2 separate regions of the Homo sapiens genome follow, and region 2 is linked to region 1. A link means that fine-mapping ties the variant in region 1 to the expression of a gene that starts in the linked region. Tissue or cell type: whole blood. Region 1 holds a variant in brackets; the other region holds the start of a gene. All regions are shown on one strand. Distances are from middle to middle.

Region 1 (2,682 bases):
GGGAACTGAAGATGTTCCAGTGAATGAAGTGGAGCCCCCTCCCTCAAGGATCTCACAGTCTCTTTGGAGCAGACAGGCAATAAACATGTACACAAATGACAAATTGTATAGTACCAGAGTATGTTAAGTGCTCTGTACACAAGTCAAAAGAATAGGGCGTGATGAAGAGGATGTGTGTGGGAACCGCGAGGAGGCCATTGAGGTAGAGTGAGCACAGTGACCAGGCCACTGAGGTAGAGTGAGTGCGGTGACCAGAAGGGCTGGGAATAGAGGTCACAGAGGAAAGGCCATGGTGAAGAGTTTGAATTTTCTGAGAGACAGGCATGGTCCAACACTTTGGGAGGCTGAGGTGGGTGGATTGCTTGAGCCCAGGAGTTTGAGGCCAGCCTGGGCAACATGGTGAAACCTGGTCTCTACAGTTTTGTGCGTGTATATGTATACACACACACACACACACATATATACACACATATATACACACATGTATATACATAATGTGTATTTATATGTATAAATTAGCCAGGCGTGGTGGCGCATGCTTGTAGTCCCACCTATTTGGGAAGCTGAGGTGAGAGAATCCCTTGAGCTTGGGAGGTTGAGGCTGCAGTGAGCCAAGATTGTGCCACTGCACTCCAGCCTGGGTGACAGAATGAGACTCTTTCTAAAAAAAAAAAAAAAAAAAAAAACCTTCCATGGGGTGTGACGGAAAGCGACTGTCCTGTCTGTGTGCCATGCCCATTCCTCCCACTGGACCTCTTGTCTGAATGGCCTCCCCAAGCTTCTCCAGCATCCTTGTTATACTTAGATTTCAGGACCCAAGGCCAGTCATGCTATCATTCTGGAGCCTTCTTTGTTTACTCCAGACCACATTCATCTCTTCTTCCAAATTCCTAAGATGGTACCTTGGGTCTTGGGGCTTGGCTAGACTTCAAATTCAAATTCTCAAACATGTACTCTGCCCCCATGTCATGCCTATCACTGTGCTGGTGCAACACGTAGGTAACTCATCCAAGCCTCGCCACCTTCCCATGAGGTTCAAATTATGCCCAGTTTTTACAGATGGGTAAACTGAGGCTTGGAGCAGTTAAGCAACTTATCTGTGGGCTCACATATAAGGAGTGGTGGAGGAAGGATTTGAATGCAGCATCTGATCCCCCAAGTCCAGCTTCGTTCTCACTAGCCCTCAGCCACTTCTGCCTTTACATAATTTGATCATGGTCTTCAGGGGTCCCCAGACCTGCCCCTAATCTCCTTCCGCATCTTCACTTCTGCACGACCCACAGCACCCAGGGATCACCGGAGTAGGCACCCTGCACTTCTCTATGCCCCCTGCCAGTGGGATGTGACACTTGCAGAGTGAATAAGCACCCCTAGGGTGACAGCCAAGGCTGCCCACACCTCTCTCCTCTCCTGCAGTGGGTTCCTACAGGGAGCCAGCAGCCATCCAGTGGAACAAGGGGCCAACACTTCAGAAGAAACTGCCATATGCTGGAGTTGTGTTATTGTCAATATGACTCTTTCTTCCAGGCCTGTGCATGATGGCATGGGAATAGTCATAACAACCTTTACTACAGCAACTCTTCATTGGCACTAGCCCAT[C/G]TTAAGCTTCTCCTTTTTGGGTTAAATTCAGGATGTCAATAATAATAACAACAATAGTTTTTTTGTTGTTGTTGTTTGTTTGTTTGTTTTGAGACAGAACTCACTCTGTCACCCAGGCTGGATTGCTGTGAAGTGATCTCTGCTCACTGCAGCCTCAATCTCCCAGGCTCAAGTGATCCTCCCAACTTAGCCTCCCGAGTAGCTGGCACTACAGGTGTGCACCACCACACCCAGCTAATTTTTGTATTTTTTGCTGAGATGGGGTTTCGCCATGTTGCCCAGGCTGATCTCAAACTCCTGGGCTCAAACCCTCTGCCTGCTTGGGCCTCCCAGAGTGCTGGGATTACTTGCATGTACCGCTGTGCCTGGACAACAATAGCTATTTTATCAAAAATATGCAAAATGAAAGGAAGCTGCTGGGCACTTTATGTACCCTATCTTATTTAATCCTTATAGAAACCCTAGGATGCAGGTATGATTATTATGCCCATTTTACAGATATAGAAACTGAGTCTCAGGCAGGCAAAGCAACTTGCCTGAGGCCACAGAGCTGATAAATGCTGAAACTCAAATCCCAGCTCCACCCTGAGGCTGGTGGACCTCCAAGTCCTTGATCTCAACCTCTGCACCCAGTTCTACAACCAGATAGGTGTTCAGGAGGTCCAACACAGGCAGTGGATAGGTGAGGAAGGCTTAGTGACTGGGGCTCCTCAGAGAGGTGCATAAAACCAGGGAAACTCAAAGCACTGCAGGGACACTGGTCTGAGTTTCAGGAACCTGGGTCCAGATCCTGGCTTTGCCTCCTCCCAGCCGTGTGTCCTTGCTCATGTTGCCTACCCTCTCTGCACCTTTATTTCCTCAGCTGTGAAATGGGTTGATAATAGATTCGCCCTCCAAGCCTGGTGTAAGAAGGAAGTATGATAATGTCTGTGAACATGCTTTGAGGCCCTGAAGCACCACGCTTAGTGCATTATCATCCATTCCCTGGACTTCTAGAATGAGTGAACCGTGGGAGAATCAGGAACAGCATCGGGGGAAGGAGGAGAGGAAAGTGTCGGATCAGGCTTTTCTGGGTAGACAGAG
Region 2 (2,682 bases), 59 kb before region 1:
TGGGGACTGTGGCCCCCATGCCATCCAGTGTCTTCAGCAACCTTGGGACTTTGGAAGCTAAATATAGTCAGGGCTCGGGGTGATAAGGAAATGAAAACGGCAAGACTGTAAAGTGACCCAGTTTTATTTTGGTTTTGGAGGCCAGACAGGGCATTGCTCCACGGGTTCGGGCTGTACAACCTTCCCCTCCTTGAGGTGGGAGGCCCAGCAACCACAGGGCCCAGGCAGCGGGGTGGGAGGCTCAGGAGATGGTGGCTCTGGGGACCCGATCCCGAGGAGAGAGGGGGCAGCAGGCAGAGGCCTGCAATGGCTCAGATTGGGGGAAGAGGGCGGCGAGGGGGAGAGGACACGATCCAAGAACCAGAGTCCGAAAGCTGAAGCTGGTCCGGTCTCTTTCACTTTACGGCCGAGGCTGGGGTCAGAGAAGTGAAGCCAAACTGTCCTCCCGCAGGAGGCAAGGCCTGGAGGGACGCCAGGGTCCCAGTCCGGTGCCGGGCCCTGCGCACACAGCCGCCGCCTCCACCCTCGCGGAGGGCGCGCGCGGGGCCCAGTCGCTGGGTGCAGGGTCCGGCGGGCAGTCGGGCCCTTTCTCCTCTCCGGCACGCCGGGCGGGCGCCGGCCGCCCTCAGCAGCTCACGGAGCCGGCGGGCGGCGCGGACCCCAAGTCCGAGAAGCAGTCGAACTCGCTCTGGCCCAGGAAGAGCTCGGGCAGCTCGCGCACGCGGTGCAGCCCGAGCTCCAGCTCCAGCGACGTCAGCGCCTCCTCGTCGATGAGTTCGGCGTCCATGCCGCCCAGGGCGTGCGCGGGCGGCGGCGGGGCTGCGGCGCTTGGCGCCGGCTGCGGGCCCGGGGGGCCTCCCGGAGCGTTGGGGGGCGCGGCCGCGCGGCCGGGGTACGGCGTCGCCACAGGCTGCAGGTGCGCGATGCCCGCGGCCGGCGGAGGCACGGCCGGAAAGGGCTGGAAGGAGGACGGCGGCCCGAAGGCCCCGTACGCCAGGGCCCCGGGTTGGCGGGGCGGCGGCGGCCCCAGCGGAGCCCCCCGCGGCCTCAGCCCACTGTCCAGGCCCGGGCCCGCGTACGGCGGCAGAGTCCGGAGCGCATGAGGGCCATGGGCGGCCGCGGCGGACGGCGGCCTCTGCACCAGGCGGTAGCCCTCGGCGAGCATCAGGTGGTCGGCCATGGCGGCAGGCCGGCTGCCTGCGGGGACAGCGCGCGGTGGTCAGCGCCGGCTCCCCCGGCCCGGGCCAGCGGCTGCTCTGCGGCGGGAGACCCGGGCACCGTGCGGTCCCTGCAGCTCGGCCGGGCGGAGCAAAACCAAACCCGACTGGTGCCCCGGCCCAGCCCACTACTGCGCACCTTGCGGCCGCAGCCTGGGGTCACAAAGGCCCGCAACCTGTAGTGCTCCGAAACCTCCGCGTCGCGTAGCTGGGCTCGGCGTATTCTTATACCCAGAGGCGGGGCTTCCCCGCCCTCGGACGCTCATTGGCTGGGCGAGACGCTTCTGGGCGGGCCGCGCACGCCTGCATCTAGGTCTTGGCCCCGCCCCTCCCACTGGAACCCCGCCCCTTGGGACTCCGGCCACGCCCCAGGCTCTGAGCACCGCCCTGGGGCGGGGTATTTGGCACTTTCGGAGGGATTCGGTCTGGCCCTCAGGGCTTCGGAATCGGACTTGGCTGGGGTAGAGCTTGAACTGACCAGAAGGTGGGGTGGGAGGGCCAGAGTTTTAGGCCCCCCAAGAGCTGCAGGATGTCAGGCCTACGCAACCTTTTAACTTTCCAGGTAGAGACCGAGGCTCAGTGGCGGAAGAGGCTTCCTGGAAATACACAGCAAAGCCTTGATCAAAGTGAGACTGCACAGCTACACAGGGCGCATGCACCTTAGCGGTGCAGGGTCCCCGCAGGAGGTCAGCTGTCCATTCCCATAACCCCCAGGAGAGCCTGTTGCTCCCCCTCTAGTTCCCACTGCACCTTGTCTGTTGAAGCATGTACTTAGTTGTTATTAATTTATGGGCACGTCTCCTGAAGGACTTGTTCATCTTCTTCTTCTCAGCACTTGGCCCAGAGCCTGGCCCAGAGCAGGCTTTTAGTAAAAGCTGAGTGAATGAACTAATGATGGAATGAATTGCAACTCTCAGCTGAGCCTCAGTTTCTTCATCTGTAAAAGGTAAAGAACAGCAGCACTGACCCTTTGTGAGGGGTAAGTGAGGGCATGTGTGCACAGTGCCTAGCACAGTGCCTGGTATGTGGTAGATGCTCAAAAGTGTCCCTTAGATGAAAGAAAGGCTATTTAAGTTCTTTTTTTTTTTTTTTTTGAGACGGAGTCTCGCTCTTTCGCCCAGGCTGGACTGCAGTGGCGCTGTCTTGGCTCACTGCAAGCTCCGCCTCCCGGGTTCACGCCATTCTCCTGCCTCAGTCTCCCGAGTAGCTGGGACTACAGGCGCCCGCTACCACGCCCGGCTAATTTTTTTTGTATTTTTAGTAGAGACGGGGTTTCACCGTGTTAGCCAGGATGGTCTCGATCTGCTGACCTCGTGATCCGCCCGCCTCGGCCTCCCAAAGTGCTGGAATTACAGGCGTGAGCCACCGCGCCCGGCCAAGGCTATTTAAGTTCTGTCCCAAAGGGCCTTCTCTTGATAACAGCAATAATAACTTGGACTTTTAAAGTGCTTTACATTCTACAAGT

What was found. PIP is the estimated chance that this variant, and not a neighbour inherited with it, causes the effect.
Region 2: CITED4 starts here. The variant in region 1 is fine-mapped to the expression of CITED4 in whole blood (TOPMed, PIP above 0.99).

The regions. Positions count from the first base shown.
Region 1 is chr1:40,920,358-40,923,039 of GRCh38, forward strand. No RefSeq gene overlaps it. Among named protein-coding and RNA genes, the nearest start is that of CTPS1, 58 kb to the right of the region's middle. The variant C/G (reference allele first, on the strand shown) is at 1,600.
Region 2 is chr1:40,860,948-40,863,629 of GRCh38, forward strand. It overlaps CITED4 (Cbp/p300 interacting transactivator with Glu/Asp rich carboxy-terminal domain 4), which reads right to left and starts at 1,416. Exons shown (of 1, transcript NM_133467.3): 1 at 107-1,416. The coding sequence starts at 1,180. The coding sequence ends at 626. LOC124904157 (a long non-coding RNA gene) reads left to right here and starts at 1,437. Exons shown (of 3, transcript XR_007066025.1): 1 at 1,437-2,163. RefSeq lists silencers at 1,203-1,282, 1,443-1,642 and an enhancer at 1,743-1,802.